Homo sapiens: one gene and its partners. The protein of the gene in region 6 purifies or fractionates together with the protein of the main gene of each other region. This does not show direct contact. Each region holds a gene or a part of one and is shown on either strand. Other genes may lie near its edges.

Region 1 (2,689 bases), on a different chromosome or scaffold from region 6:
CTCTGGCCTCCCTGCCCAGCCCTTCAGTGCTCCCAGCTCCCTGGTGCCCTGGGAGGCGGCCCCCTAGCCTGGGGTCTTGGTGGCGAAGGTCAGGTAGCCGGTGTGGCCCACGGCCTCCTTCATGGGCGTGCCGCTGCGGAAGGGGCTGGTGTCGGAGCCGGCAGGGCCATCTGTGCCTGTGCCCAGGTCGGGCGGTGGCAGGCTGACAGTGCGCACGTTGTAGACCTGTGGCAGCACCTCCAGGGTGCTCAGCTCTGAGAAGCCGCGCGCTGCCAGCGCCTGGCATGTGCGTTGCACCTGCTCGATGCACGGTGAGAAGGAGCAGAAGCGCCCGCCTGTGGGAAACAGGACCCGAGGGTCAGAGGGCAGGGGTGGCAGAGCCTGGCCCGTCTGGCCCTAGCATCCCTGGACTCCCACCCTAGGGTCTGAGGCCAGCCTAAGACAGCCCCAACACAGACTGCAAGCTCTCCAAGAGCTGGGACTGCAGGGCAGAGGGGCCTGGCCCTCAACTGACAGCCCCCCATGGGGCCTGGCGCCGCTGTTCATGTCACCCAGCTTAGCCATGCCAGGCCCTCCCATGTGCCAGGCACCGGGTCAAGCCCGCGCTGCCATTGTCTCACTTGGCCCACAGCGGGCACTGCTCTCCTGCCTTCCACAGGGCTGCTGGAGCTCTGGGCCCGGAGCAGCTCTGACAGCACGGCAGCGTGGGGCGGTGCGGGGGCCGCTGCTGTCACAGGAAATTAGAGGCTGTCGCTGCTCCCGGGAACAGGAGGCGCCTACTCGAAGCAGAGCCCGAGCATGACAGCCCCTCCCTGCCGCCTCCCACCAGGGCAGCCACGGGCTTCACTTGGCCTGGCCTGCAGTGAATGAGAACCCAGCCCGGGTCCCTGTCCTGGCAGGGAGGACCTGGGGAAGCCAGGGCCGGGTAGAGGTATGTGGCCCAGGCAAGTGTCCTCAAACGTCCCTGAGGTTTGGTCTCCTCAGCTGTACCCTAACACGGGGCCGCCAGGAGGTTCGGGGTTAGAGGAGGCACCTGCTGTGTGACAACAGCCTAGACAGGGCACAGAGGCTGAGCATGCCGCATCCTCCCCAGCGGGCTCCCGTGGCCGGCAGGAGATGCCGGGCCCATGAATGAGCCAGGAGCCTTTGGACCCAGAAGGGGGAGCTCGCAGGGAAAGGGACAGGTCCCAGAGGCAGGCGCGGGTTCCCCGAGCCACGCTGGAGGAAGGAGTCACAAAGGCAGCAGGGGGGCCCCAGGGGAGGCTCTGCCGGGTTCAGCCTCCCTGGGACTATGGTCCAGGCCCAGAAGTGTCCCCAGAGCAGGAAGCCTAGGAGGCAGGGTGTGGAGATCCCCACAGCTACCCACCTCAGCAGAGACCAGGACCCAGGAGTCAGGGCTGGGCTGGAGCCAGCAGGGGACCCCCGGCCACAGCCTTGCTGTTCGCACCAGGCCTCGGCTCATCTTTGAGGTGGGGTGGGGCGCCCAGCACCTCCACCCTTCAACCCTCTCAGAATACAACTCTCAGCTGGGAAGAAGGAAGGGGCCCCTGCTGCCTGAGCTGCTCCTTCTCCAGAAAAGGGAAAAACCCTGGGCCTCCCAGCCACCTCCCTGGCTTGAGGCCCGACCTTCCCCAGGGCTGCCCCGCCTCCGCACCCAGCATCTTCCCTAAAAGGGGCCAGCTCCCTGGGCTCCAGAGCCTGGGGGAGGAGAGGTTTTGGGAAACAGCAGGGAGGGGACTCCAGACTCCTCCGGCCGGGCCTGCCCTGCACTTGGGTGGCGCTGCCACCTTCCTCCATCAGGGGGTTGGGAGAGGCCAGAGACCAGGAGCAGGGCCCAGCCAGGGACCATCCTCCCCAGCTCTGCCTCCCCTGGCCAGCCTGACCCACTCCTCACCTCAGGCCAAAGTGGGGCCCTGGCCTGGCCACTGCCATGGTGTGGCTTGGTCTCTGGACCCCTCTGAGATCCCAGGAGCTCAGTCCTGCACCCTTGCCCCACCCCCACCCAGGCTGTACCTCTCCCGGAACCCCGGATGCACCTTCGACCTTGAGGGCGTCCCAGGCGTGGCCCACGGCCTCCCAGGGTGATGGGATGTCCAGGAAGACGGCGTCGGCCACGTGGCTCACGCCAAAGCCACTGCGGCACACGTCCTGGGTGCGCACAGTCACCCAGCGGCCCACACGGTGCTCCTGGAACTCCTCCCGGGCCTTCTCTGCCCGCTGCTGGTGGAACTCCACCGTGTGCAGGTGACCCGTGGGTGCAATGGTGCGGATGATGGCGTGGGACACAGAGCCACTGCCGGTGCCTGGCAGGACAAGAAGGGATGGGCAAGGCATCAGTTGGGACTGCTCGGGACCCACAGCCTCCCAGGAAACAACCCCCACCTCACCCTGGAGACCCACACAGGGCTTGGGAGGACCCCAAGCTACAGGTGGGCGTCATTCCAGGGCTGTATGGTCCTGGCTGCCTAAAGCCCCAGGCTAGCCCTGGGTTGGGCACCCTGTCTAGGGGTGAGCTGGGGTTGACAGGCTGTGTATGCCGTGCTGTCTGTTGTGGGCACAGGCGAGGCCAGTGGCAACCCTGCCCTATCCTGCCTAGCGCAGGTATAGGGAATGAGAGCAGCCCAGCTGCCTGGAGCCTCCGGGGAAATCTGTGCAAGGGGGACAGGGAGGCCATCCCATCACTCAGCCC
Region 2 (4,110 bases), on a different chromosome or scaffold from region 6:
TGACAGCTGACTGTAAGTGAGGAAGGGGAGAAAATGTCAACAAGCTTCTCTTTAGGGAACCTTGCTTAGGGTGGGGATGCCAGCTGGGAAGGATCATGGGGTTAAGGATGGTTTTCATCTCGAAGGCCACTATCAATCAATCATCATAGCTTGGTATGTATGTGTGACGGGAAGGATGCAGAAGGGATATGCTGACAGAAGGACGCAGGAGAGGGGTCAGCTATAATGAAGACAGGGATGCCTCCGAGGTTGACATGAACCTCAAGGAATGGACATGTGAATTCCCAAGGTGGGGGTGCAGGGTGGGGCACTCAATAGGACAACGGGCATGGCCCTCCCTGATGGGTTGGCACGAGCCGTGCAGCCTAGAGCCACAGACAGTTTCCCTCCCGGGCATCCCCATCCTGGAAGAGACGGACACCGGGAGGGCCCAGAGCACCACAGATACTGCGGGCAAATCTATGACTTGAAGGCAGAGAAGACGACTTTGGGCTCTTGGATGTCGTGGTTTCATAGTGGACTTTATTGGGAAAAGTTAGTTAGTGTAAAAAACATTCAAATTAATTCATAAAATTTAAATAAGGTGATAGTAAATTATACCTTGTAGTTAATAGTAATCAATCAATCAATCACTACAGTAATCACAAATAAGGTAAAGTCTAAATTACTGCCTTAGCAAACACTATGTTGTCAGGTTTTTCTGCTGCAAGCCCAAGGCGGGAAACACTGCAGTTATTAGAAGTGAGCCCAATGATGAATTTGCATTTGAAGCTGGGAGAAAGAGGAAAAAAAGTGTGTTCTGATTATGGCATCGAGACACTGTAGCCTAAAAAAGCAACTTTATTAATGTCCTGCAGCAGCGTACATTAGTAATTATAACAATGCATTAAAATTTTCATTTCATGTCATAGAGAATCAGTTTTCTTCATGATACATTATGTTTTACTGAGTGAGTTTGTCCCTCCAGAGACCTTTCTGGGAACATGCCTTCTCCAGGGACTGCTTCCTAAGATGCCCAGGTTGCTTACCACAGGTCATCTTTGGTCATTTAAAAGCAGTCAAGCTGTCTGGACTGCACCCTCTCAACTGAAGTTGAGCCAAATTCCCTTCTCTCAAACCCTAACGCCGCCATCACTAAGAGAATGGGCATCTCGGCTTGGTCAGAGCATTACTAACAAGCTAATGTGGGATTCTCTTTGGTTATGAATTTTTATTTTTATTTAAGCATACAAAAAATACAGCTAGAAGTAGGCTCCTGCATTCTAAAAGCATTTTTAATCAACTTAAACTATGTTCTTGGAAAATTCACCACCTGGACTGGTTCAGTCTGCCCATTTCCCTGTGGAATCTAGTATCAGTGTTGTATTTAGCAAATTCATTTGAGTGACGAACAGTGACTGATATTCAGGAGCCCCGAGGGGTGGGGGCGGCCGGCCTGGGCAGACTTAGATGCTGTCCATAGCTTTGAACTCGCTGAGGGCCTGCACCGGGTTCACGTGCTTCTTCTGAGATGCCCGTTTAATCTTGGTCTGTGTCTCATCCTGTTTCTCTCTCTTCACCAATGGCTTTTTCTCTGGTGCCTTCATCTTCCATGACACAGCAGGAAGGTTGAGGGAAGCCATACCCTGTGACTTTTGGTATTTGGTAGAGGCGACGTAGGATGCCTTCACTGTCTGCACCACAGCATTCATCAAGTTCTTGGCTGCCTGGATCAGGGACATGGCGCTGTCCACCTACGAGGCAGACAGGGGTGGTAAGAAGCACCGGCCTGACCTCCAGCCTCGTGGACACAGGTGGGCTGTGCTTGAAGGGGAGCCCCCTACTCCTCTGCAAGACCAGGGCCTGGGCAGGTCGCAGAGGATTGGGCAGCAGCCTGTTCCTGAAGAACACCCTCAACGGCTGCTCTTATCTAAATAGCCTGGAAGCGCCTGCCCTCAGACCCTTTGGAGAAGACATGAGGCAACCTCGCCTTGCTCACCCCCACCCCTCAGCAAGTGTTTATTCACTCAAACCAACTGGAAGTCACTGTAAGTGATCCCAGAGCTGTAAGCACGTGGGGGAGGAGAAGCAGGAATCGAGACAGGGATGTTTATGGCAAAGCAGATGAGCAAATGGTCTCAATATGTTCAATATAAGAAGTGTTTCTTTTAAAGGAAATTCAGTGGGATTAAGAGAAGCCATGGAGGCTCGGTGGACCCCAATCCACTCAGCAAACCTCTTCTTTCCCCTGCCCTAGGTGAGAAAGGCCTCAGAACTGTGATGTGGTAAAAAGAAAGAGACGCTACCCAAGCACTCTGAGGAGTGAAGGGCTTTTGAGAAAACACCCTATCTATGTCTACTCTTAATTCCTCTCTGGGGGAAGAAAAGGAAGTTTTGTTTTGTTTTGTTGTTTCGTTTTGTTTTGAGACAGTCTTGTTCTGTTGCCCAGACGGGAGTGCAGTGGTGCCATCTCGGCTCACTGCAACCTCCATCTCCCAGGCTCAAGTAATTATTGTGTCTCAGCCTCCCAAGTAGCTGGGACTTACAGGTACCTGCCACCACGCCCGGTCCCAAGGAAGATTTTTAAAAATTCCTACCCAGTGAGTGGCCAGCAAAGGGGAGGAGGCCAGCCTTTCAGCCCTTGCAGTGCCCCGCAGGTGTCACAGTTCTACAGGGAACAGATGATGGACAGACCTTGGTCTCCAGAGACTGGGACAGGACTTGGAGTTTCTGCACAGCACACTTTCCCAGGGCAGGTGTTTATGCGGATAGGAGGTGACTTTCATTTCTGACAAGGGTCAGCACGTTCCCACTGGCCCTCTTTTTGTTCAGCTAATGCTTACCCCAGAGACAACAAGCTCCCCGCCGAGATTCTGCACCTCGGCCTTGACCTTGCTGCAGATGTTCAGCTGGTGGCAGTAGAGGGCGATGCGTTGCAGGTAGGCCAGCAGGTCCTGCTTGCAAGCCGAGTCGGGGCACTGAAGAGAGAGCAGGCTTAACACCAAGTATCCTGGCCTGGCCCAAGCACCCCCGACCCCACGGCTGTTTCTGAAAGGTTCAGTGTGGCACTCACATGCTTCCTCTCCTCTTGCTGGAGCAAAATCACCCAATTACCTGAGGCAGTCACAGCCCTTGCCTACACTCTGCTTGGGGATGGAGGCGGGTGAGCTGATGGAAGTCGTCCATGGGACCCTGACTGCGCCGCATGGCACTGGTTGTATAGCCAAGGCCTTCTGAGCCTCCCACTGACTTCCCTCCTATGACGGCGGGGAAACCACCCTGGCCAAGGATCCCCTCACCCCAAACGGCAGGGTGGAGGCCCATGCCCCTCGAGGTGAGAACAAGCCGGCTCAGCAAGCAGGAGCCTGGCTATGGAGAAAAGTCCAGATGTTTTTAGCTAAGTAAACAAATAGTTAACTCTTCTGCTCTGAGGCACTTTGCGTTATTAATGCCTGATGACAAAAGCCACTCACTGCAGGCTGAGGTGGAAGACAAGTGAGTAAAGTAAAGCAAGAAAAAAAGCAGTTGGGGATGGTCAAAGAGAAAAGGGTGGCCCCTGCCCAGTTCCTGTCTCGCTCCACATCTCAGAGTTTTAGAGGCTCCCAGATTAGGACCAGCCTAGAAAGCTTTACCCAAAGGGAGAAACACAGAGCACCTCTCAAGTGTTTATAGCAAGCAAACATTTTCTTCCAGTGAGGCTGGAGCAAAGTACACCACAGAGAGTGGTATGAACTGAGACCCCGCAGACCATACTGGAGATGAGCTGTATTCTAAGTAGTCATGGAAGCAGGGCAGAGCCATGTGATCTGCATTTTCAGATGACAGTATTGACAGCTGGATGCAGAAGGAAGTGGAGAGAGGAAAGAACAGGAAATCGGGAGCGGCCACAGTAGTCCAAGTGGCTATGGAGATCTGCAGAAAGGACAAGACTGGTTTGTGTCAAGATACATTTGGCCAATGGAAGCAATAGGCCCTATTACCGATTGTGTGGGAGTCAAGGATGCCTTTACAATCTTTGGCTTGTGTAAGGAGGCTTGTGTCTCACACATCCTGTGGCCTAGATGAGGCTGAGAGTTTGGCTATTTCAGGGAAAATGGTGGGGAGGCTTGTTAACTACAGAGAAAAACTGTA
Region 3 (3,500 bases), on a different chromosome or scaffold from region 6:
GGGACGTGGAAGGATTCTGTTCCTCCATCCACGACACCAGTGTCTCTGCTGGGTTCAGAGCACTGTATGAGGAGGGATTGCTTCTTGATGTCACTCTGGTTATTGAAGATCATCAGTTCCAGGCCCATAAAGCACTCTTGGCCACCCAGAGTGATTACTTCAGAATTATGTTTACTGCAGACATGAGGGAACGAGATCAGGACAAAATTCATTTAAAAGGTCTAACAGCTACCGGTTTCAGCCATGTCCTGCAATTTATGTACTATGGAACTATAGAGCTGAGTATGAATACCGTTCATGAGATTCTTCAGGCTGCCATGTATGTTCAACTTATAGAAGTGGTGAAGTTCTGCTGCTCTTTTCTCTTAGCGAAGATCTGCCTAGAAAATTGTGCAGAAATTATGAGACTCTTAGATGATTTCGGCGTAAACATCGAGGGAGTCAGGGAGAAGTTAGACACCTTTCTGCTAGACAACTTTGTGCCACTCATGTCTAGGCCTGACTTTCTGTCCTATCTGAGCTTTGAGAAGCTCATGTCTTACTTGGATAATGATCATCTGAGCAGGTTCCCAGAGATAGAGCTGTACGAGGCTGTGCAGTCTTGGCTGCGGCATGATAGAAGACGCTGGAGACATACCGATACCATCATTCAGAATATCCGGTTTTGCTTGATGACCCCAACCAGCGTTTTTGAGAAGGTTAGTGCATTTGAAAGCAATAGACAGTACTCATCATTTAGTTAAGGCAGTGTATGTCTTTATAGATAAGATTCACAGACTTAAGAGCCAAGAATGAATAACTTCATTTTGTTATTTCTTATGTTATTCAAGAATGAATAACATAAGAGTACTTTATGTATAAGAAGCCTGATTTGTTGTGCATTTAGGTTTTGTAAAATACATTTTGTGGGTGAAAGATAAACCACGTAGGTAGTAAAACAGTTTTATTTTAAAAGTACTTTTAAAGTTGAAGCATAATTACTTTATGCAAAATATTACATGTTTGCTGTAGCTTTTCTTTTCATTTCATCAATTAAATCGGAACCGAGTCAGGCTAGATCTCTTTTTAAAAATAAATTTAAGTAATACATGCAGAAATTGGCATTGAGAAGAGTTCTGCATGGTATACATTAATAGAGTTTCTTATTCCTCTAAAATATAGCAAGGACGTACAAAATAGCTCTTGAAAACCAATAGGCCCTAATGGTGATTTTCTTCCCTGCTCTTACCTTCTGGTTTTCCCCGTTTTACTGTGAATACTAACTAAATTTGACAATGAAAACATGTTATATGTCTAAAAACATCATTTTGGCATTTCTAAACAAGTAGACTATAACTCTTCTATCTACATTGATCAACCATCCCTGGGCACATTTTACCATGCAAATAGTTCTCTTAAAAATAGTCTTTCTCTGAAACAGCCTTGGCCTTTTTTTGCATGTAAGCATTTTCATTTTTATATCAGAGTTTCACTTGTGATCCTTTCTTGCCCAAAGGTCATAGAGCACTTTTAGTAATTGCTTAACTTAATTGGTTTCTAATCACATGGTTACCTCTGGGGCTCTGTTTACTTCTTGCATCTTCTCTTTTTTCTAGAAAGCACACTGAAAACTTGGTCGGTCACTTTTCATGTTAAATAGTTCCTCAGCTTTAGTTATTAGACCTGGTTATAAAAATACAGTATCTGCAAAGGAGGGTTGTCTACGCCATTTGAAAAATAAACCCATTTGCGCCTTTGAATAACAGCAGCCTGACATATTTTTTTTTCCTCCAAAATGCTGTGAAACTGAGAATTCAGTTTTGTGGATTTTTGTCTTTTATTCTCAATGTATTGATGTGGCAGAAATAATTGAAACTAAATTATATATATGTATGTATGTATTTTTTTTTTTTTTTTTGAGACAGAGTCTCGCTCTGTCGCCCAGGCTAGAGTACAGTGGCGTGATCTTGGCTCGCTGCAAACTCTGCCTCCCAGGTTCAAGCGATTCTCTTGCCTCAGCCTCCCGAGTAGCTGGGATTACAGGCGTCAGCCACTGTGCCTGGCTAATTTTTGTGTTTTAGTAGAGACAGGGTTTCATCATCTTGGCCAGGCTGGTCTCGAACTCCTGACCTCATGATCCACCCGCCTTGGCCTCCCAAAGTGCTGGGATTACAGGCGTGAGCCACCCCACCCAGCCAATAATGTATTTCTTTTATTTTTTGTTTAGTGATAATCAGCCCCACATCAATTATGTAAATCATTTGTCTCTGATGTTTTGATTTTTTTCCTATTGTTTTTATTGCTCTTTTTCCCTGGGGAATCCTGTTTTGTTTTGTTTTTGTTTGTTTTGTTTTGTTTTGAGAGGAGTCTCACTCTGGCCCTGGAGTGCAGTGCTGCGATCTCAGCTCACTGCAGCCTCCACCTCCTGGGTTCCAGCAATTCTCATGCCTCAGCCTCCCGAGTAGCTGGGATTACAGTTACCCACCACCATGCCTGGCTAATTTTTTGTGTGTGGAGATTCTTAATTCTTCCTTTGGTAGTAACAGATTTGAACAGTGACTTAATAGTGTAGGGAAGGGGGCATTCTGCCTCAACCCAAGGAAAAGCCCCCATTCGTTCTAGGGACACAAGTCATGTCCTCTAGCTGTGCTGAAATCTTTGGGTTTATCCTTCTGCAGTATCTATGTAGTCCTCTACTGGATTTTCTCCTTAGGTGAAGATAAGATTGTCTTAACTTTTTTTTTTTTTTTAGTATACTTTTTTCTTTTTTAATATTTAACTTTTTTTTGTAGAGATAGGGTCTCACTGTTGTCCAGGCTGGTCTTGAGCTGGCCTGAAGTGATCCTCGTGCCTCGGCCTCCCAGAGTGCTGGGATTATAGATGTGAGCCACCGTGCCTGGCCAGATTGTCTTAATTTTTGTACTAAGTATTCTGTGGGACCATCATCGAAGAGGCCAAGGCTTCCAAATTTCCTGAGTTCCTTAGAGGCAGCAATACTGTTTATCTGAACACTGCATGTGCACACGAGCACACACACACACACACACACACACACACACATATATTTATGCTAGGTCATGTACTAAGTGCTCTTACCGTACATATAGGTAGCATCTACATGGTTTTTTTTTGTTTTTTTTTTTTTGGTTTTTTTTGAGACGGAGTCTCACTCTGTTGCCCAGGCTGGAGTGCGGTGGCACGATCTAGGCTCACTGCAAGCTCTGCCTCTCAGGTTCACGCCATTCTCCTGCCTCAGCCTCCTGAGTAGCTGGGACTACAGGCACCCGCCACCACGCCCGGCTAATTTTTTTGCATTTTTTTTTTTTAGTAGAGACGGGGTTTCACTGTGTTAGCCAGGATGGTCTTGATCTCCTGACCTCGTGATCCGCCTGCCTCGGCCTCCCAAAATGCTGGGATTACAGGGGTGAGCCACCGCGCCTGGCCATGCATCTACATGTTATCCCCATTTTATAGATAAGGAAACAGGCACAGAAAGGTTAAGGATCTTATTCCAGACCAAG
Region 4 (3,500 bases), on a different chromosome or scaffold from region 6:
ACTGTTTCACTCTTGTCGCCCAGGCTGGAGTGCAATGGCGCAATCTCAGTTCACTGTAACCTCTGCCTCCTGGGTTCAAGTGATTCTCCTACCTCAGCCTCCCGAGTAGCTGGGATTACAGGCACGCACCACCATACCCAGCTAATTTTTGTATTTTTAGTAGAGATGAGGTTTCACCACATTGGCCAAGCTTGTCTTAAACTTCTGACCTCAGGTGATCTGCCCACCTCGGCCTCCCAAAGTGCTGGGATTACAAGCATGAGTCACCATGCCCAGCCCAGTATACAACTTTAGAGAAGTCACTTTACCCCTCTGAGCCCAAATTCCCGCACTAAAAAAATGCAATAATTATGGGACAAACCAGAGAATGTTCGTGAAATACTCTGTAAATGATAAAACATTAACTCAAAATATTTCTCATTTCAGAAAATTGAAAAGCAAATGTTTTGACAGCCATTTAAAAACAACAGGCAAATACAACCATATTCCTCCGTGTTTTTCCCTCTGCCAATATTTACTTAAGATACCTGCCAGTTTGCTGAGATGATGCTGTCTTACACTGAGCAAAGAGATTCAAACCTGTGCTGTCCTCTGAAGATAGAAAACAAGAGCAGGTACCTCACTGAATTGCCAAATATTCCACATATTGAGGCTGAAAAGCCAACAAGCAGTCTTCCTACAGCCCTCTGTCACCTCAGACTTAACGGGGGGGGTAAACTGGCATCTCCCTGCCCCTGCACACGTTTCTGTTTAAAGTGCTGTCTTAATTTTTTTCCAAAGTTCTCAATTTAGGAAGCACCAAATTTACTCCCATAGACATCAAAAGAGAATGGAGGCTGGGCCCGGTGGCCCACGCCTGTAATCCCAGCACTTCCAGGAGGCCAAGGTGGGCAGATTACTTGAGGTCAGGAGTTTGAGACCAGCCTGGCCAACATGGTGAAACCCCGTCTCTACTAAAGATACAAAAATTAGCCAGGCGTGGTGGTGGGTGTCTGTAATCCCAGCTACCCAGGAGGCTGAGGCAAGAGAATTGCTTGAACCCAGGAGGCAGAGGTTGCAGTGAGCTGAGATCATGCCACTGCAGTCTAGCCTAGGTGACAGAGCAAAACTCTGTCTCAAAACAAAAAAAGAAAGAGAGAGAGAGAGAATGGAGAGGGTGCCATCAAGGCACAAGAAACCTACACCCACCCTCATCACATGAAAACACCTCTTCCCAACCCAGCATCTGTCCTATCTCTAAAACACACTCCTCTCATGGGTAAAGAGCCTTAAAAAGCAACTTGCAACCATTTTTCTTAAAGACGTTTCCTTAAAGAAGTTTCTTTTTGGAGATGTGGTATAAATCATGGCTCCTAATCCTTCCTTTCGCTTTCTAAACAACACTCACTGTTTTTCCTTTCCCACAGAACCTAACGTTTAAATCCATGAACCAGTTTTTACCCTTGAAAATGCAACCAGGAAGTGAAATATAAAGCATGGGATTCTGCCAAAACTTGCCAAGCTGGGAAAACCTTTCTTAACCTTCAATGAGGGGGTTCAGAATTTCTATTTTAGTATATATGTAAGCTGCTAGTTTCCCAGAAATTCTTTGTGGGACTATTACCCCCAGGTTTGAAATAAAGTTTCTGGGACTGCTGTTCCCAGCAACATCTCAATAAGAAGGATGACAAATAAGGCTGGGCATGGTGGCTCATGCCTGTAATCCCAGCACTTTAGGAAGCCAAGGCGGGTGGACAGCCTGAGGTCAGGAGTTCAAGACCAGCCTGACCAACATGTGAAACCCCGTCTCTACTAAATTACCCGGGCATGGTGGTGGGCGCCTGTAACACCAGCTACAAGGGAAGCGGAGGTTGCAGTGAGCCGAGATCACACCACTGCACTCCAGCCTGGGCAACAAGAATGAAACTCCATCTAAAAAAAAAAAAAAAACGTCCAGGCACGGTGGCTCACACCTGTAATCCTAGCACTCTGGGAGGCCAAGGCAGGCGGATTGCCTGAGGTTAGGAGTTCAAGGCCAGCTTGGCTAACATGGTGAAACCCCATCTGTACTAAAAATACAAAAAAATAGCCAGGCATGGTGGCGCATGCCTGTAGTCCCAGCTACTCAGGAGGCTGAGGTGGAAGAATCGCTTGAACCCGGGAAGCAGAGGTGCAGTGAGCCGAGATGCCGCCACTGCACTCCAGCCTGGGTGACACAGCAAGACTCAGTCTCAAAAAAAAAAAAAAAGGAAGATGATATATAAGTGAATCAATAGGTTTGACATTCTACAAGATAAATTTCACTGCCATGAAGTTCAACATTTATCTAGGGAGGAAAATATAGAAGACAGGACAGACTCCTTCCTAGGGGTGGCCCAGAAGACTGTCGGTTGGGTGAGGTCATAATTAAGGGCAGCCTCCTGGGCTGTCCAGTATTCACTGGCTTTCCTAAGGGCCTTCTAGGCCTGGTGTCTACAAAATCCCCAACTGAACATCTGTCACATTTGGTTCATCCTTCACTCTCCAACTCCCTTTGATTTCAGACTAAAAAATGGGTTGCTGAATACAAAACACACACCCTTGATACTTGGCATTATCTCCAGAGGTAACCTTCTGAAGGACTCATGCCTGGTCCCCACTCCCTGCCTCGGAGGACCAGGTTCTTAACTGCCCACTCCCAGCCTCCTGGAGCCCTAAGCCCTGCCTGGGCTCCCTGCTCCTCCCTGCTGCCCAGGGGGGCATGGATACAGGTGCTTGTGCTCTATGGTGTCTTGGAGTGGGGCATGGTGGTGGCAACTCCTAGCATATGAGGTAAATGCACTGATATTCACATTTAAAACATTATATTCTACAATATAGAAATAACTATAAAATTTATGCTAATAATTTAAACTTAATTTTTCTTTATGTAGAATTACATTAAATAGAAAAAAAAATTTTTTTTTTGAGACAGAGTTTTACTCTTGTTGCCTAGGCTGGAGTGCAATGGTGCAATCTTGGCTCACCGCAACCTTCACCTCCTGGGTTCAAGCGTTCCTCCTGGCTCAGCCTCCCAAGTAGCTGGGATTACAGGCACTCGCCACCATGCCCATAAATAGCAATTTTATTTTTTTTTAAATGACAAGTCAAGGGAAAAACTACAGAAGAACAAAATTTTACATTTTAGGATCTCTAAAGATGCTTTTTTTTTTTTTTTTTGAGACAGAGTCTCATTCTGTCGCCCAGGCTGGAGTGCAGTGGCGTGAGCTCAGTTCACGGCAACCTCCGCTTCCCAAGCTCAAGTGATCCTCCCACCTCAGCCTCCCTAATAGCTGGGACTATGGCCATGCACCATCACACCCGGCTAAGTTTTGTATTTTTTGTAAAGATAGGGTTTTACCATGTTGCCCAGGCTAGTCTCAAATTCCTGAGCCCAAGCAATCCTCCTGCTTTGGCCATTCAAAGTGCTGGGATTACTGGGTGTGAACCACCACGCCCGGCCTAAAGATATTCAGTTGGTGCAAAAGTAATTGCAGTTTTTA
Region 5 (3,500 bases), on a different chromosome or scaffold from region 6:
AAACTCTTTTCTTTGCCCTTTTTTTTTTTTTTTTTTTTTAGACAGTCTTGCTTTGCCACCCAGGCTGGAGTATAGTGGTGCCATCAAAGCTCTCTATAGCCTCAAGCTCCAGAGCTCAAGCAATTTTCCCAGCTTAGCCTCCTAGGATATTGGTGTATGCCACCATGCCCAGCTCTTTTTTCTATTTTTTGGAGACAGTCTGGCTATATAGCCCAGGCTGGTCTCAAACTCCTGGCCTCAAGAAACCCTCTCACCTCAGCCTCCCAACGTGCTGGGATTATAGGCATGAGCCAACACACCTGGCCTGAAATTCTTTTAATGAAATAGTCAATGCCTCGTTTTATCAGCATATAGTTATCAAATCCTTCAGAACTTCGCATTAATTAGCTTTAAAGTTATTTACTCTTATTTTTTTTCTTTCGAGATGGAGTCTCACTTTGTTGCCCAGGCTGGAGTGCACTGGTGCAATTTCGGCTCACTGCAACGTCCGCCTCCCAGGTTCAAGAGATTCTTGTGCCTCAGCCTCCCAAGTAGCTGGGATTACAGGCATGTACCACCACGCCCAGCTAATTTTTGTGTTTTTAGTAGAAACAGGTTTTACCATGTTAGCCAGGCTGGTCTCAAACTCCTGGCCTCAAGTGACCCACCTGCCTCAGCCTCCCAAAGTGCTGGGATTACAGGCATGAGCCACTGTGCCTGGCCTAAAGTGATTAATTCTTAAATATGAAAAGATGGGCAAAAATAATTAGATACTTGGGAAAGGTTAAAAACAACACAAACAAAAACCACAAGAAAAACAGAATCCACAAGAAACAGATATACCACGGTAAAGCTTTTTAAAAGTTAAAAAAAAATATATAATCAATATACTCAGAGAAGTAGGAGAAAACACGATATTGGCAATATAAGATCAGAATGCTACAGAAAGGAACAAACAAAAATGAAGAGCCCTTGTAAATTAAAAATCAGATAGGTTATATTAAAAACACAAGAAAATCTGGCAGAAAGTAGTGCAGATAGGTAAGATGAAAAATAAACAAGAAAAAAGATGCAGCAGATCAACTCAAGAGATTCAACAGGAGTTCCAGCAAAAAGAACACAGGTATTTATCAAAATAATGCAGTAAGAACATCCAGAACTGAAGGCTACAATTATCAAGATCAGGGCTGTCCAACAGAAATACAATGCAGACCATTATGTAATTTTAAATTTTCTAATAGTTACATTTAAAAAGTTGGTCAAATACATCTTAATAATGAATTTATTTTAACTTAATGTTCCAAATGTTATTTCAACTGGTAATTAATATAAAAAATTAGAAAAGATTTTATACTTTTTCTTTTAATGGGTATTTTTACATTTACAACCCATCTTAATTTTGACCAGAGACACTTCAAGTGCTGACGTGTGATTAGTGGCTACAGTACTGGGCAGCGGAGGGACAGACTGAAATTCTACATTAGCTGTCTGGTTCCATAGCTCTCTTTCAGTTCCATGGGTAAGCTCTCTCATTTACTGTGTATCTTTTAGGTTTGGTTTAAAGAAAGAAAAAAAATGTCCTAGGGAAAACAGTGGTTCTACAATACAGCCTTTCTGTCATCAGCCCTGCTCCCCAGGTACAACCTTGTCTCTAAAAATAAAAAATAAAAAAAGGACAAAAACCCGACAATACTGTTTCATTTACAAATACACTCAGGTCCCCGCCAACTCTTGGAAGATCAGTATTATTTATTTGTTACCCCAGCATTCTTCCTCATCTGCCCCCATTTCTAAGATATCTATTTCTTATAATTCTGTTTTGTCTCGCCAACTCTAGTTACTTCTGTCTAAATTTAAGAATAATCCTCTGATCATCAAATTTAATAGATATCAGTCAGCATTCTTTGACTTTCTCAGCAGCATCTGAGAGTCTTGACCATCCAAACTCTCCCCTCAATTTCAGTGACACTATACATATAAGTTATTACTTTCTTTCTGTCTCTTCAGTTATTTCTTGTCTCCCTTTTCTCCAACCCTAAATGTTTACAGGGTCAAGTGTATATGCCTTTAGTTGTGTGTTCTTTTCCATTTCTCGCTTTCCATCAGGGACTACGTAGACTTTTATAGCTTCAAATATAAATTCAGTGGGAATGAGTCTCATATAACATCTTTGTCTCCAGCCCAAATCTTATATAACTGAAACCATTTTCTGGCTAACCTCCAGCTGAATATAAACTTCCACATCAAAATCAAGTGCTATCCACCTTCTCTTGAAAAAAACATTTCCTATACCAGACTTCTCTACTTCCCCAACTGGGCTTTTGAAAGCATGCTCTTCATAGTGCACCATCTTAATTAAGCCCAGCATTTAACATGGTGCCTGGTGTACGGTAGTGTTCACTAAATATGTAATGATGATGGAACCAATTTTTATCAAGATTATTACTGTTTTAGTCACCAAGATGAAGCTTGAGAAGTTAGATCAATACTTGTATCTTCCCTCTCTACCCTCATAAAATCTGTCAATCTGCTCAGTCCTATCACTGTTTTCATCCACTTTTTCCTTGCTACTCCCAAAGAAATCATCTGGAGTCTGGGCTAATGTAGACATTATCATCCAGTCACAACTATAATAATATGCTCCTGTTTTCCCTTCACTTAGTCTCTACCTGTTCCAACTTATGCCATATATTGCCACCATATTCATTTTTCAATTATCATTTTCATCAATCAAAAACAGTTCTGTAATGCTACAGAGTAACTCCTTAACCACTCCATTTTCTCACTACTCATGCATACCCCCAGGTCTAAGCTTTGCACATAACATTTCCTGTCTTAAATGTCTTTCTCTGCCCAATGGTATCTTATTTATAATAAACTCTTTTCAGCTTTCCCTCAGGGCAACTATGATCTCTTTGAGATTCCAATAGCATACTTCTACAAGAGTTACTGGCAGTTTAAAAACATGTTACCTTTTATGGCAATCATCTCTTTTCATCTATCTTCTCTCTCTTCAACTACACTCTCAACACCCTAAGAGCAGAAATTTTTTAGACTTCTTTGTATTTCCTGCACGCAGGACAGAATTTGTCCACCACATGAGCTTAAATGTGCGTTACAATTAAAAGAGAGATACAGAAAATCAACATTCATCCTAATAACTCTACATGTAAAATAGATTATAACTTACCCTAGTGTCTTCTATGTCAAGCTTAATTCCTATTATTCTACCCAATATAGAATTATGCATTTTATTACCATAGGGTATCCCAAGGCGTTCTTGTTCTTTCCTATAGCCTTCCAGTGCAGCAGCCCATCTTGTCACTTGTTCTGAAGTTTCATCTGAAATGGTTGTGATGTGTTTTGTGCCATCAAGAGTTATCACTTGAGCTTCTTCAACAAGATGTGCTTCTGATTCAGCATGGTGGGCATCTGGATCAATAACAACCTCAACAGTGTCCGCAGGTTTAACAATTTCAAGGATGTTTAACTTTGGTTCAATTCCTGAACAGTGGATAAAA
Region 6 (3,500 bases):
GAGCTAGAGACCTTAATATTCTCTTCTGCAAAGTGGGCGTCATAATTCCTATTTTGCAGGGTTGTCATGAAAGTTAGTGTATCTGGAATGTACTAAATGTACTAGCTACTAAGAGTTGTAGTTATTGAAAAATAAAGTAAAACAGACCCAAGTTTCACAAAAGACTGTCCTTAAGGTCCTTCAAAGAAAAAAAAAGCACATTATAAAAGTCATTTAAGTATTTTGATACCTAGACACCTGTGAATACAATCCTACATATCTACCTTATACATATTATTTATTATTTCAAGGCCAACAGGGCCAGCTCAAAACTTGTATCATTATTTTTTGCTCGCCGTGAATCTGCCTTGAAGCTCTGAATTTAAAAGACTCAAGCAATTAGTGGAAAATCAGTCATTGTGACAACTTTTCAAGTGGGTGGGGAGTGTCTTCAAATAGCCAATGATACGGAAACTTTCTTCACGCTCTTTTTTATATATTTTTTTAAGTCTGCATATCTAAATTGAGATCACTTGAAATGAGTCTTGCCACACTGGGCATTTAGCCTAAAAATAAACACCCAACGGAATTTGCAGCCTGGCTGGGTTCACAAGATGCACAAGGGACCAGATTCTCCCTGCTCAAATTGGCATCGCAAATTGGCAGGGTCATTTGCATAAATACGAATATTTTATTCCAAAAAATTCTGCCCAAGTTGGGGGAGGTTGGAGCCCAGGACTGTTTGGTTTGTCCCAAAGTGGAAAGAATGTTGCTCTTGGACTTCAGGGGTTCAAGCAGAAGATCTGCTCCCAAATTAGGGTATGAGAGCTATGATTGCACCACTGCGTTCCAGCCTGGGTGACAGAACAAGACCCTGTCTCTTAAAAAAAAGAAAAAGAAGAGAGGTGGAGAGACAGGAGGATAGAAGAGGGAAGAAAGAGTTGCTGATGGAAAGGTGCAGGGCAAGATAAGCTTCCTGGGAGTGGAGGACCAGGGAATGGAATAGTTTAAGACCATCCTATGAGTGGTCGTAAACTATCCCAGATGTTTCAGGTTAGCTCAGCTCTGAAGAAAGACTTCCTTACATTTTGTAATCTGTTACACATTCTAGGTGTGGTGTCACACAGCTGCATTCATTTGTTTTCCCCCAGATCAGTTTCTTGGTGGCTCAATTTTTTGCCCTGTCAGTCAAAAACAAATTAAGTGTCTACTGGGTACTCATGTGCTAAAGAAAAAGGAACAGTAACAAAAAGCTTCCCATTTTTCCCCAATTTCATGCAAAGAATCTGCACTGTCACTTTCAGAGCCATTTAGGATCCTGCTTTTCTGTTGCTGGTGGAAGCCCTGAAAATTAAATGAATTTTTAGTATTGCTAGTGTCTGGCTAAATTCAAGGTTTTAAAACCCACCCTAACTATGCTGCAATTCTAGACTGAAATAATGAACAGATGTCATTTGAACTAACAATATCGAGAAGACTTTTCACTAACAACACAGTTGTCTGTCTAGAGATGGAGATTTAATTTTTTTTGTCTGATCACATGTGGAGTCCCATTTAATTTTCCCCTATCAGTCAAAAACAATTAAGTGAAGAGAAAGAAGCTATTCGTGATATTGTCCTTCGCAAAGAAAACTCTTTCCTGACCCACCAACATGGCAACGATTCAGAGGCAGAAGGTGAAGTTGTGTGTCGACTGCCTGATCTTGAGAAGGATGACTTTGCTGCAAGGAGAGCAAGGATGAACCAAACCAAGCCAATGGTGCCATTAAATCAACTCCTCTATGGCCCTTATCCAAAGAAAGGGGCAGAGAAATCAGATGGCAGCAAACAGCTCTCAAAGGGAATCTCAAAAAAAAGAAGTCTAGAATATAAAAGGTGTGCATGGTGTGTGTGTGTGTGTGTGTGTGTGTGTGTGTGTCTATGAAAGAGACACAGGGAGAGAGGACATAATTAAGTGAAGTCAGTTTGTATTGTACCCCCTCCAGTTCCTCTTTCCAGCCTCTCAATTATATGTACTTTGTAATGGGGGTTTATTTTGAAGCGGAACTTTAGATATTCAATCTCCCTTAAATGCAGATGGCAGACAGTAGAGTGTCCATGTCCAAAATAGGGCTGAATTTGCCAAAGAAACATTGAATTCCAGTGTGTAGATGTGCTGAATCAGGGCTCATCACCACATATGGGTGCTGGTGTCATCAGTTGGCATTATTAGCAAAAATAGACATGTACTATTGCCTATCAGAGAACAGCCACCTCTCACAGCTGCTCTAGTCCATTCAAAGGAAGCAGAAAAACGCTAAAAGCACTTCTCTCTTATTAGCTACATTTAGATGTTGGAAGAAAAAAAAATGAGACTTGTTCTTTCTTCTGTCACACCAGCAACATCACCTAGACAAATGATAATGGATATTTCCCATCAAAAACACTTCTCAAACTTATACTTCTATATGTTCTGTCATAGAAATTGTTTTCAAGCCAGTTTCCTTTTGCCAACATTTTCCCCGTCCTCTTAATACATGTTGGAGTGAATTGGGGACAGGAAAATTATAGTAAGATGGAATTTGACCAGTGATTTTTGTCCTGAGAGGGAGATATGATTTCATTTAGGGAACCTACTTGCTGAATTTCATCCTGCAGAGTTAATCATTCTTGTATTTTTCCTTATATCAAAATCAGCTAGAGTTAGCATCTACATTATTGAATTGTCATCTTTTTGCCCATCACTTTAGAGGTTTTTAAGCCTGTTGAACTTAGTATATAATTATCTCAGCTGTGCTTTAGACAATTAAAATGGTTCTTTAGGCAGAGTTGTTGAGCTCAGGGGAGTAGTTGGTCTTTTTGATTTTTCTTAGGAAGTACCAGATACAAAAACCCATGAGGGATTCCTGGATATAGAACAGGGATTCGATAAGAGAAAATCTGGCATCATTTCTTTACAGGACACATTATAGCTTCAGGAGGCCCTTGGTCTTTGCCATTGCTGTTGGCAGGCCTTGTAACAAACCATTCTTGGAGGGCCTTGTGGGAGGGATCAGTTGTGCAAGTGAAACAAAGACTTTTGGATAACTGACTAACATCAAGGCATATTGATGGCAATCAGCAATTTGAGTCAGGAAAAGGACTAGCCTTTGTATCTCCCTTGTTTCCTTTCTCCTCCATGTAATTTTAATTCCTGATATTTCCAGCTATATTTGTCTGTTGTCACCTGACTCTGTGTTTGCGGACGCAGTTCTGGGTCTGAAGCAGCCCTTGACCTCTCTAGACAGCATCAAAGAACTTATTAAAAAAAAAAAAAAAAAGAAGGGTCCCTAGTGCCTCTTTGCCATGCCCTTCCTTGATCTCCTTCCTCAAACTAAGAAAATTCTATAGCCTTTCTATTTTTATGGGCTGTGCAAGCATGCCAAATCATCAAGGTAACAAAAGACTACCTCTTGATTTTCCAGCTTGAATGATATATTTTGTGGGAAGATTAATAGGCTCTATTTATATATTTTTTGAGATTTTTCTATTTCAAGAAGCAT
Region 7 (3,500 bases), on a different chromosome or scaffold from region 6:
ATCTCTCTTAAAAAAGAAAGAAAATAAAATAATTAGAAAGTATTGCCAGGCGTGGTGGCTCATGCCTGTAATCCCAGCACTCTGGGAGGCCAAGGCAGGTGGATCACCTGAGGTCGGGAGTTCCAGACCAGCCTGACTAAAAATACAAAAAATTAGCCAGGCAAGGTGGTGCACGCTTGTAATCCCAGCTACTCAGGAGGCTGAGGCAGAAGAATCGCTTGAACCTGGGAGGCAGAGGTTGCAGTGAGCGGAGACCACACTATTGCACCCCAGCCTGGGCAACAAGAGTGAAACTCCATCTCAAAAAAAAAAAAAAAAAGTATTAATTGAACATTCTCTGCCAGCAATTCAAATGTACTATTTAATGAAGAAGAAAAAAGACAAGAAATCTCCCTTTCCATCATTGCTCCTCATTCCTAAGAAAGTTATGGCATATGGAACAGGCTTGTAGTCAGCCCTAGGTTTAAATCCCAGTTCTGCCGGTTGTGTGACCTTAGCAAATTATATATACTTTCTGATTCTCAGTTTCTTTATCTGTAATAAATACCTACCTCAAGGGGCCCAGCACAGTGGCTCACACCTATAATCCTAGCACTTCGGGAGGTTGAGGCAAGTGGATCGCTTGAGCCCAGGAGTTCGAGACAGCCTGGGCAACAAGGTGAAACCCTGTCTCTATTCTAAAAAAAAATAAAAATAAAAAACAGGCTGGGCATGGTGGCTCACACCTGTTTTCCCAGCACTTTGGGAGGCCGAGGCGGGAGGATCCCTTGAGCCTAGGGGGTTTAAGATCAGTCTGAGCAACATGGTGAGAAATTTTGAATTTTAAAAATTAAAAAAAAAATTAGCTGGGCATGGTGGCTCACAACTGTGGTCCCAGCAGCTACTCAGAGACCAAGGTGGGAGGATCACTTGAACCTGGGAGGCAGAAGTTGCAGTGAGCCAAGGTTTTGCCACTTCATTCCAGCCTGGGTGTCAGAGTGAGACTCCGTCTCAAAAACAAAAAATAAATACCCATCTCATTCCTAATTTTTCTGTGTATTTTGGAAACACATTTCAAAGATTCAAGTCAAATGTGATAATGCATATAAAAGTATGGCATAGCACCTATCATAGGACAGGCTTTCTTCTTTCCCTACCCAATGCCAAAGTGAGGTGAATGGGTGGGAAATAAAAAAAGCACAGAGAAGGTAAAGAAGTTACAAACTCCATATTGTAACACTCCTCATTTTCCCAAACCCTTTTCTACTATTTTTGTTTATTACCCCCAATCTTTTGAAGCTTTTCTATACCTCATACTGTCCTATAGGGTTAGAGTATGAGGCAGGTTTCACTGCCACTAGCAAGCAGGTGGGGAAACCTAGGGAAGTTTCTGTACTTAAATTAAGCTTAATAGCAATGCCTTATTGGGAGAATCTGAGTCTCCTAACAGGGAACTCAAAACAGTGATTTTTAAATAGTGAGGAGCTGGTAAGGTGGGAAAGGAGGGTGACTGGCAAGGCTACAGGTTCACCCACCTCATAATCAGAGCACTTGTAGGCCAAATATTTTATTTGTTCAAAGAGCTCAGCAGTTAACAAAAACCAGGCAAAAACTGATAATCAGTCAGAAAATATTTTACCACCAAAGTATTATTTTACCTATTTGTGAGGCTTTTATAAGACTCCAACGGGCTGCCTAGAAATCAGGCCAAAAGGCTTATGTTACAGAAAAGACTTCCTGGAAAAACAGATTCTAATTTTCAAAACATCAACTTACAAACTTTCAGAACACTGTAATTTTAGTTTCTTTGTTTTAGAAAATCTATTTTACAAACCTTAAAAGGCTAACCATTTTCCAATGCCATGCTTGTCTTGTTCTAAATATTAACTGTATGTGTATAAAGACAAATATCCAGAACAAGTTGTCCATACCTTTGTCAATTAAAAAAATTAAATGTAAATTTTGATGATAGTGGCTATTTTTCTCATATAATGTTGCAAAGTTTTTATTCAAATAGCCACGATTACTTGTTAACTGACATCATAACTATCCACTTCAACAGAATAATTAAGTCATTTTTCTAATTTTATTACGAAAAAATCTGGGCTAGGCACAGTGGCTCACGCCTGTAATCCCAATACTTTGGGAGGCCAAGGCAGGCAGATCACCTGAGGTCAGGAGTTCGAGACCAGCCTGGCCAACATGGTGAAACCCCCATCTCTACTAAAAATAAGAAAATTAGCTGGGTGTGGTGGCACACACCTGTAATCCCAGCTACTGAGGAGGCTGAGGCAGGGAGAATTGCTTGAACCCGGGAGGCAGAGGTTGCAGTGAGCCGAGATTGCACCACTGCACTCCAGCCTGGGCAATAGAGTGAGACTGAGTCTCAAAAAAAAAAAAAAAAAAAAAGGCCAGCTGAGGTGGCTCACACCTGTAAGCCTGGCACTTTGGGAGGCCAAGGCGGGCGGATCACCTGAGATAGGGAGTTGGAGACCAGCCTGACCAACATGGAGAAATCCCATTCTCTACTAAAAACACAAAAATTAGCCGGGTGTGGTGGCACACGCCTGTAATCCCAGCTACTTGGGAGGCTGAGGCAGGAGAATCACTTGAACCCAGGAGGCTGAGGTTGTAGTGAGCTGAGATCAAGCCACTGCACTCCAGCCTGGGCGACAGAGTGAGACTCTGACTCAAAAAAAAAAAACACAAACCAAAAACCTAGCATAGTAGTATAAATGTTTGCTTAATTAGTAGAACTGCAATTTGCTTGAGAAAGTTCCGTGTCAAGTCCATGGGTCAGTTTTTTATAATCTTTACTTATATCTAATGTGATTCCAAATTTTAGACTCAAACATTTCCTTAAAATTTTATCAATACGGTCATGCATCACTTAACATATATTCTGAGAAATGCCTCATTAGGCAATTCTGACATTATGTGAACACTCTAGAGTGTACTTACACAAACCTACGTGGTATAGCTGACTACAACCTTGGGCCATATAGTATGGCCTATTTCTCTCAGGCTACAAACCTGTACAGCACACAACTGTACAGAATACTGCAGGCAACTGTAACAGTATTTGTGTATTTAAACATAACTAAATGTAGAAGAGATACAGTAATTACACAGTATAAAAAAATAAAAAATGGTACACCTATATAGGGCAGCTCTACTATAATCTTACAGGATCACCATCATTGAAACTTCCTTAGGCAGAGCATGACTATATTGTAACAACTTCAACTGCGGCAGAGCACACATTTATATATAAAGCTGAGAAACTATTAGAAACCATGAGGCCCAACTACCTTTTGTTTCAAATTGCAAAACTAACGCCTAGGGAGTTTACTGAATCGACCAAGGCTAAACAGCTCTTCACTGTCAGAAATGAAACTAAAATCTAGATAGTGTTAGTGCTCTACCTTCCAGTCCTTTCCTTATAACACCATATTGCCTTCTCTGCTCCTTCCAAATGTCTGGCTGCTATTATTTTTAAAGTATCCTTATCTGTAAAATAT

The links.
Region 1: the proteins of LIMCH1 (region 6) and TRMT61A fractionate together in Homo sapiens (co-fractionation; one large-scale study listed by BioGRID). This does not show direct contact.
Region 2: the proteins of LIMCH1 (region 6) and CTNNA1 purify together in Homo sapiens (co-immunoprecipitation; one large-scale study listed by IntAct). This does not show direct contact.
Region 3: the proteins of LIMCH1 (region 6) and KLHL15 purify together in Homo sapiens (affinity purification with mass spectrometry; 3 studies listed by BioGRID and IntAct, with this or other methods). This does not show direct contact.
Region 4: the proteins of LIMCH1 (region 6) and PLEKHA7 purify together in Homo sapiens (co-immunoprecipitation; one large-scale study listed by IntAct). This does not show direct contact.
Region 5: the proteins of LIMCH1 (region 6) and GABPA fractionate together in Homo sapiens (co-fractionation; one large-scale study listed by BioGRID). This does not show direct contact.
Region 7: the proteins of LIMCH1 (region 6) and YES1 purify together in Homo sapiens (affinity purification with mass spectrometry, with the first as the bait; one large-scale study listed by BioGRID). This does not show direct contact.

The regions. Positions count from the first base shown.
Region 1 is NC_000014.9:103,532,196-103,534,884, reverse strand, and holds part of TRMT61A (tRNA (adenine(58)-N(1))-methyltransferase catalytic subunit TRMT61A), read right to left. Parts: intron 2,304-2,689; coding exon 2,037-2,303; intron 336-2,036; coding exon 64-335; 3' UTR 1-63. UniProt on the Homo sapiens protein: Catalytic subunit of tRNA (adenine-N(1)-)-methyltransferase, which catalyzes the formation of N(1)-methyladenine at position 58 (m1A58) in initiator methionyl-tRNA.
Region 2 is NC_000005.10:138,931,425-138,935,534, reverse strand, and holds the end of CTNNA1 (catenin alpha-1), read right to left. Parts: intron 2,958-4,110; coding exon 2,823-2,957; intron 2,648-2,822; coding exon of another isoform or gene 2,577-2,647; intron 1,734-2,576; coding exon 1,446-1,733; 3' UTR 501-1,445; downstream 1-500. UniProt on the Homo sapiens protein: Associates with the cytoplasmic domain of a variety of cadherins. The association of catenins to cadherins produces a complex which is linked to the actin filament network, and which seems to be of primary importance for cadherins cell-adhesion properties.
Region 3 is NC_000023.11:24,003,187-24,006,686, reverse strand, and holds part of KLHL15 (kelch-like protein 15), read left to right. Parts: coding exon 1-698; intron 699-3,500. UniProt on the Homo sapiens protein: Substrate-specific adapter for CUL3 E3 ubiquitin-protein ligase complex.
Region 4 is NC_000011.10:17,004,415-17,007,914, forward strand, and holds part of PLEKHA7 (pleckstrin homology domain-containing family A member 7), read right to left. Parts: intron 1-3,500. UniProt on the Homo sapiens protein: Required for zonula adherens biogenesis and maintenance. Acts via its interaction with CAMSAP3, which anchors microtubules at their minus-ends to zonula adherens, leading to the recruitment of KIFC3 kinesin to the junctional site.
Region 5 is NC_000021.9:25,751,972-25,755,471, reverse strand, and holds part of GABPA (GA-binding protein alpha chain), read right to left. Parts: intron 3,484-3,500; coding exon 3,238-3,483; intron 1-3,237.
Region 6 is NC_000004.12:41,625,157-41,628,656, forward strand, and holds part of LIMCH1 (LIM and calponin homology domains-containing protein 1), read left to right. Parts: intron 1-1,551; coding exon 1,552-1,854; intron 1,855-3,500.
Region 7 is NC_000018.10:802,243-805,742, forward strand, and holds part of YES1 (tyrosine-protein kinase Yes), read right to left. Parts: intron 1-3,500. UniProt on the Homo sapiens protein: Non-receptor protein tyrosine kinase that is involved in the regulation of cell growth and survival, apoptosis, cell-cell adhesion, cytoskeleton remodeling, and differentiation.